Homo sapiens: one gene and its partner. The protein of the gene in region 2 purifies or fractionates together with the protein of the main gene of each other region. This does not show direct contact. Each region holds a gene or a part of one and is shown on either strand. Other genes may lie near its edges.

Region 1 (3,824 bases), on a different chromosome or scaffold from region 2:
AGAAATACCATTTGACCTAGCCATCCCATTACTGGGTATATCCCCAAAGGATTATAAATCATGCTGTTATAAAGACACATGCACACGTATGTTTATAGCGGCACTATTCACAATAGCAAAGACTTGGAACCAACTTAAATGTCCAAAAACAATAGACTGAATTAAGAAAATGTGGCACATATACACCATGGAATACTATGCAGCCATAAATTATGATGAGTTCATGTCCTTTGTAGGGACATGGATGAAACTGGAAACCATCATTCTCAGCAAACTATTACAAGGACAAAAAACCAAACTGCATGTTCTCACTCACAGGTGGGAATTGAACAATGAGAACACATGGACACAGGAAGGGGAACATCACACACTGGGGACTCTTGTGGGGTGGGGGGACGGGGGAGGGATAGCATTAGGAGATGTACCTAATGTAAATGACGAGTTAATGGGTGCAGCAGACCAACATGGCACATGTATACATATGTAACAAACCTGCACGTTGTGCACTTGTACCCTAAAACTTAAAGTATAATAATAATAAAATTTAAAAAAAAGGATTCTAATCAAAACAAGCAGTTTTGTTGTGTTTTGTTTTTTGTCACACCAAGCTGACCATTTTTATTCCAAGCATTTAGAAAGAATCAATCTTGTACCAACAGAGAAATGCAAACCAAAACCACAATGAGATATCATCTCACACCAGTTAGAATGGCAATCTTTAAAAAGTCAGGAAACAACAGGTGCTGGAGAGGATGTGGAGAAATAGGAACACTTTTACACTGTTGGTGGGACTGTAAACTAGTTCAACCATTGTGGAAGTCAGTGTGGCAATTCCTCAGGGAACTAGAACTAGAAATACCATTTGACCCAGCCTTCCCATTACTGGGTATATACCCAAAGGATTATAAATTATGCTGCTATAAAGACGCATGCACACATGTGTTTATTGCGGCACTATTCACAATAGCAAAGACTTGGAACCAACCCAAATGTCCAACAATGATAGACTGGATTAAGAAAATGTGGCACATATACACCATGGAATACTATGCAGCCATAAAAAATGATGAGTTCGTGTCCTTTGTAGGGACATGGATGAAGCTGGAAACCATCATTCTCAGCAAACTATCGCAAGGACAAAAAACCAAACTGCATGTTCTCACTCACAGGTGGGAATTGAACAATGAGAACACATGGACACAGGAAGGGGAACATCACACACTGGGGACTCTTGTGGGGTAGGGGGACGGGGGAGGGATAGCATTAGGAGATATACCTAATGTAAATGACGAGTTAATGGGTGCAGCAGACCAACATGGGACATGTATCCATATGTAACAAACCTGCACATTGTGCACATGTACCCTAAAACTTAAAGTATAATAATAATAAAATTTTAAAAAAAGGATTCTAATCAAAACAAGCAGTTTTGTTTTGTTTTGTTTTTTGTCACACCTAGCTGACCATTTTTATTCCAAGCATTTAGAAAGAATCAATCCTGTACCAACAGACAAATGCAAACCAAAACCACAATGAGATATCGTCTCACACCAGTTAGAATGGCAATCTTTAAAAAGTCAGGAAACAACAGGTGCTGGAGAGGATGTGGAGAAATAGGAACACTTTTACACTGTTGGTGGGACTGTAAACTAGTTCAACCATTGTGGAAGTCAGTGTGGCGATTCCTCAGGGATGTAGAACTAGAAATACCATTTGACCCAGCCATCCCATTACTGGGTATATACCCAAAGGATTATAAATTATGCTGCTATAAAGACACATGCACACGTATGTTTATTGCGGCACTATTCACAATAGCAAAGACTTGGAACCACCCCAAATGTCCAACAATGATAGACTGGATTAAGAAAACGTGACACATATACACCATGGAATACTATGCAGCCATAAAAAAGGATGAGTTCATGTCCTTTGTAGGGACATGGATGAAATTGGAAATCATCATTCTCAGTAAACTATCACAAGAACAAAAAACCAAACACCACATATTCTCACTCATAGGTGGGTATTGAACAATGAGAACATATGGACACAGGAAGGGGAACATCACACTCTGGGGACTGTTGTGGGGTGGGGGGAGGGGGGAGGGATAGCATTGGGAGATATACCTAATGCTAGATGATGAGTTAGTGGGTGCAGCACACCAGCATGGCACATGTATACATATGTAACTAACCTGCACATTGTGCACATGTACCCTAAAACTTAAAGTATAATAATAAAAATAAAATAATTAGAAGATAATATTGCCAAAATTAAAAAAAAAAGAATATGACCCCTAGAGTTTTCTAAATAGTTGTCAGCATTTTAGTTAATTTCCTAAACTAATTTTTGCTTTTACAACCCAAACCTCAAAATCATCCATCCTACACTAATTTAATGTAATGAATAAGAACAACTGTAGGCATTTCAGTTCTAATCTGTACGGTATACAAAAATCTAAGATCTTTCCCCTTTGATACATGAAGGAATGGTATCCAAAGTTCATTCTCACTAATATATGAGGACATGCAGTTCCATCCTGCCTACGTAGTTAGATTCTTAACTGCTAAAAATAGGCAATGTAACTTTGTAAGGGCTACATTACATGTCCCCACTTTCCTCCTTTATCCTGCTTGTAAGTTTCCAAGGGTAATGGGTGGCTACCCACTTAATAACATTATTAAGACACGATGAGAGATTTGAACCTTCTCTGTCCCAGATTGTCATCTTGCCTAAAAATCTCAAGAATTTCTTAAAGTTTACCACCTGATTCTTTTTTCTGTTTAACAGTTCATAGCCTGCCTGCACTAGTACCATTGTTCAGCCATGCAATACAGTGGTAACTGCTCATAGCACCTGCACATCTATCATTGCTCAAGCTTCATGCTTCAAAGAGCTCTTTTCTTTGGCATTTTATCAGGAGGGTGATTTCAGTTTTGTGATTTCAGCATTTCACAAAGCAAGACAATTTCTCCCACCCAAGAGCCTACGTTTGCATTCACATCAAAACTAGAGTCCAGAGAGTTCATCATCTGAAATAACACTACAAGATTTTGTAAGCAGAGTGCCAAGGTAACAGTATTATATAGAAATAAGTACAGAAAATATATTATAGCAGCTGTTTCACTTATAAACATTTCTGTAGAGTATTTTAAGCTTTTCTTAAAATTTTTAAAATATGTTTATAAATCTTTCGCAAGAAGTTCTAAAGGCCCTCTGTATGTGAGTTAAAAGCTATCTGAAGTCTCTGTTCCATTTTCCACATGCATTTTAATTTTTGCATGTTTTTCTGAACTTTTTGCACTATGAAAATTGAAATTTATCTAAAAGGACTGATAGCCTTAGTAGGTTTTCAGCAATTGTCGGAAAACAATTTTGTGCATAGGGAGTTTGTAGTCAGTCTGTATAAAAGATTCAAATACAATATATGTTAACATTCTCAAAGATATTTTACTTGCTCTTAACATTTGCTTAGAATGAAATCTAATGCTTTCATGTGCCCCATGAAAATAATTATATTAGGCCGGGTGCAGTGTCTCACACCTGTAATCCCAGAATTTTGGGAGGCCGAGGTGGGTGGATCTACAAGGTCAGGAGTTTGAGACAAGCCTGGCCACTATGGTAACACCCTGTCTCTACTAAAAATACAAAAATTAGCCAGGCGTGGTGGCACGCTCCTGTAATCCCAGCTACTTGGGAGGCTGAGGCAGAAGAATTACTTGAACCCGGGAGGCAGAGGTTGCAGTGAGCCAAGATCGCACCACTGCACTCCAGCCTGGGTGACAAGAGTGAGACTCTGTCTCAAAAAAAAAAAAAGGTTA
Region 2 (4,468 bases):
GCAAAATGCCTAGAGCCCAGGATTCACGTTACACTGAGCTATAATCACACCAGTGCGCTCCAGTCTGAGCAGCAGATTTGGTAGGCACTTGTAGTCTCAGTTACTTGAGAGGCTGAGGCAGGAGAATCGCTTGAACCCAGGAGATGGAGGCAGCAGTAAGCCAAGATTGCGCCACTGCACTCCAGCCTGGGTGACAGTGAGACTCTGTCTCAAAAATAAACATGAAAATAAAATAAAGTCAAACTCATCACTTTCTCCACAGATTGATCTTCCTCCAATTTGTTTTATTTCTGTTACTGACACAAGTATCACTTGCCCAGGATCAAAATATGGAAAGCTATCTCTGCCTTCTGTTTCATATATCATAATCACTCATTTGTAGGTCCTGGCAATCATTTCTTCTAAATACTACTCACATATTCCCTCCTTTCACCTGCCCACAACCAGCACTCTATTTGAAATCCAGACGACCCTATCCAGTTGGTTTATCTTCCAATCTTTCTTGTTTCCAACCCACTCGGCAGATTCATCTTCCTAATAAACTACCGAAAATAAAAATTTTCAATGGCTCTCTATTGCCTGCAGGATAAAAGTGAAAGACTTCCCTCCCACCCTTAACATTCAAGCCCTCCAAAATCTGATGTAATCCTGCCTTTCCAACTTAGCCTTCTACTGACGCCAAAATCAACCATGTGCTCCAGATGGTCTATTCGTTAACCATAGCCCAGAAATCCACGAACATACCTGTCTCTGCACCTTCGCTCTTGCCAGTGTCTGATTTGGAATATTCACCTCTTCCCCTTCCTGTAGATTTTGTCCACAGTTCAAAGTCCAAGAAAACTCTTATATCCTATATTAAGTCTACCGTGACCATTTTCCACCTCCTATCCCTAAGTTAGTGCAACTATTCTAAAATACAGAATATGCTGAATTTCATCAAAACACCCCCCGAATGTATTTTAATGTAATGTCTAAGTCAAACATTCCACCTACCATTTCTCTAAATGCATAAATTGGTGTAAACCAGGGCTATTTAAAATTATCAAGCCTGGTTTTCCAAACTGCAAAAAGAAAAAACCCAGCTACATTTCTGAGCATAAGCTCTAGTTCAGGGGTGTCCAATCTTTTGGCTTCCCTGGGCCACACTGGAAGAAGAATTGCCTTGGGCCACACATAAAATACACTAATACTAATGATAGCTGATGAACTTAAAAAAAAATCACCAAAAAAGAATCATAATGTTTTAAGAAAGTTTACAAATTTGTGTTGGGCCACATTCAAAGCTGTCCTGGACCACATGCAGCCCGTGGGCCGTGGGTTGGACAAGCTTGCTCTAGTTCCTTATATCACAAGAGGGGCATAGAGGTCATCAAAACTTAGGCAAGTGATGCTGCCCTTTCAATCAGCTCCCCAAACCTACTAAAACTCAGAAATCTTGTCGTTAGATATCATCAAAGTAAAAACTGCTGCTCAATTGGGGAGGGTGGGGACACGAAGGCAGAGCAATATTTACTGAACATTAGCTATGGGGCAGGCACTGTGCTAGGGTGCTCAGCACCATTCTCATTGTGCATATCTAGGAAATAAACATTTCCTATTTTAAAGATCAGAAAACTGAGGCTTAGGGAAATAATGTGCAAGCAAAGAGCTAGCTGACCAGGAAATCTGATTCCAAATTTTGTCCCTTTCCACTACAACAGGATGCCAGTCCACAATGAAAAATGAAGCTGCACTGAACATATACTCTGTACGACTATCCTAAAGCCCGCATGCTCTAGCAAACAAATGGTTTAATCCGATCAGAAACAGGTACATGTGATTTCCAAGAAAGGAAGCTGAAATGCGGAGTTCCTCATACGTTTTTTCTTATATTTAATTACTTAAACCTGGATGGTGCAATACAACATTGGGCAACAACTAAGCCTAGATGCTTTGTCAAGAGATGGGAAGAGTTGTAGCCGACATGGCTACTGCAGTGCTAAATTCAACCACCATTTATTGCTCTGGAAAACAGTTTGAATACTGCAACTTAAGTTTTAACATGGATCGATAGAAAAATTTAAAAGCTGAGAAACGATTGGGAACTACAGCAGATGTAGTTATTGAATTTACAGATCTGCAACCACCGGGGACAACCAAAATAATCACTTTGTAGACAGTTGTTAAAACAACTCCTTTCCAACACTCACTACAAAACGGCACAGTGAAGGAAGCAACTTCGCTCCTTTGGCGAATGAGTCAACTCCTGGATGTGAAAGGTCCCTGCAAGTACTAACACCCGCCAGAACAAAGGGGCGGGTGCCGGGGGTGTTGCGTGGGGAACAGGAGGAGGCAAATGGCCCGCACTTATCCCGGCACCCGACTGTCGCAAGCGACCGCCCTTGGGACCCCCAATATCCGACGAAGAGCACGGCGCAGGGCCTCTCCCAGAAAAACAGCGACGCTTCTCTCCCGAGGGCGGCCGTGGCTCAGGCAGGGCTGGTCCGGGCGCCGCGGGGACGAGCGGAGAGCAGGCGGGCAGGCCGAGACGGGGCGCGCCCGGAGAGGCCCACTCGGACCCGAGTGAGGGGCGGCCGGCAACCCAGGCAGGGCAAGTGCGTGCAGGGCAGCAGGGCCCGTCGGGTAGGGCAGCCAGCCTCTCCTACCCGCTCCGGGGCCCGCGCCACCGCCCCGGCCAGGCCAGCTCCCAGGGAGCCCACGCCCGCCGCCGGGCGCCTCCCTAGTCCCACACACCTGCCCGGGTGCCCAACTGGCCCACCCTCAGCCGTGTCCCCCGGCAAGGCGTTCGCCTGCCTCAGGCAAGGATACGAAGTAGACCGAGAGGAAGATGAGCGCGCAACAATCGAGGAGAGAGAAGACGAACACCACCGCCTCCATCCTCCTCCTCCGTCGCCGCCGCTCCTTCCGTCAAACCCGCTCGGATGCCCCGACCCACCCCTGATAGGCCCTTGCCGGGGCTGGCTGAGGCGTGTGGTCCTCGAATCCTGGTGTGGCATGCCGGGAGTTGTAGTCCATATTTTAAAAAACTCTACGGCCCTAATTCTGACGCATGCTGGGAATTGTAGTTCATTAGTACAAGTCCATATCAAAGAGGTGGGCAGGGCCTCTTTCATAAATCCGATTATTTCCAGAAATGGAATTAATCAACAAGTATTTACTCAACGCTTTTCTTTTAAAGAGCTGGGGTCTTGCTCTGTCGTCCAGGCTGGAGTGCAGTGGCGTGATAGAGCTCACTATGACCTCGAATTCCTGGGCTCAAGCAATCCTTCCACCTCAGCCTCCCGACATGCCCAGCTAATTTTATTTTATTATTTCTCATTTTATTTTATTTTTTGAGACAGGGTCTCACTCTGTCGCCCAGGCTGGAGTGCAGTGGCATGGTCACAGCTCACTGCAGCCTCTACCTCCTGGCCTCAGGTGATCCTCCCACCTCCGCCTCCTGAGTACCTGGGATTACAGGAATGTACCACCACGCCTGGCTAATTTTTTGTATTTTTAATAGAGATGGGGTTTTTGCCATGTTGCCCAGGCTGGTCTCGAATTCCTCGGCTCAAGCGATCTGCCTGCCTCAGTCTCCCACAGTGCTGGAATTACAGGCCTGAGCCACTGCACCAGTCTCTACTGAACGCTTTTAATCCGGATATCCAGTAGGATGTATTTCCCATGTGTGAAATTTTCTTTAGAGTTGGCTCTAGAACCATTGCATTCCCTGACTTAGGATTTGTAAGGGGTTTTCATCTCAAAGCACAAATCTAACTTAATGCTCCTGGCTTGACTTTTGCGATTTGCCCTTCCCTTCCTGATTTCAATTTCTCCAGAGATTTCACAGTCCTTTGTTTATCCTCTCCTACAGCAATGTTTCTCTCCTCTCTAGATTTTAAGATCTTTAAGAAGTGAATACGATGTCTTACTCATCCATTCATTCATTTAACAAATACAGTTGTATTTGCAGGGGCTACTTTCCAAGACCCCCAAGTGGATGCCTGACACGATGGATAGTACCAAACCTTATGTGTACTATGTTTTTTCCTATATATACATACCTATGATAAAGCTTAATTTATAGATCAGGCACAGTAGGAGATTAACAAGTAATAATAAGATAGAACAATTATACTGTAATAAAAGTTATGTAAATGTGGTCTTTCTGTCTCAAAATATCTTATTGTACTGACCCTTCTTTTTGAGATGATGTATGATGATAAAATGCCTATGTGATAAGATGAAGAGACAGATGCAGCCTCTCCAGTGATTTTTATATTTTTCAGTCCAAATCTATTCTTACATTCATGTAACTATCCATTACTTGCAGTAAGTGGCTTGGTATCACTCGTTTTAGGGAATCCCTCACTGAAGTCTTTGTATAGGCTCAATACTTTCTGGCTCAACACGTTGCCATCAATTGGCACATGTTTTCTGTTCATGTCTTCCACCCACAAATGTAATGCCTCTTCCATCTTTTTTGTGG

Evidence for each region.
Region 1: the proteins of CNIH4 (region 2) and TACR3 purify together in Homo sapiens (co-immunoprecipitation; one large-scale study listed by IntAct). This does not show direct contact.

The regions. Positions count from the first base shown.
Region 1 is NC_000004.12:103,594,177-103,598,000, reverse strand, and holds part of TACR3 (neuromedin-K receptor), read left to right. Parts: intron 1-3,824. UniProt on the Homo sapiens protein: This is a receptor for the tachykinin neuropeptide neuromedin-K (neurokinin B). It is associated with G proteins that activate a phosphatidylinositol-calcium second messenger system.
Region 2 is NC_000001.11:224,355,334-224,359,801, reverse strand, and holds the start of CNIH4 (protein cornichon homolog 4), read right to left. Parts: upstream 2,924-4,468; 5' UTR 2,878-2,923; coding exon 2,809-2,877; exon of another isoform or gene 2,759-2,808; intron 2,757-2,758; exon of another isoform or gene 2,734-2,756; intron 1-2,733. UniProt on the Homo sapiens protein: Involved in G protein-coupled receptors (GPCRs) trafficking from the endoplasmic reticulum to the cell surface; it promotes the exit of GPCRs from the early secretory pathway, likely through interaction with the COPII machinery.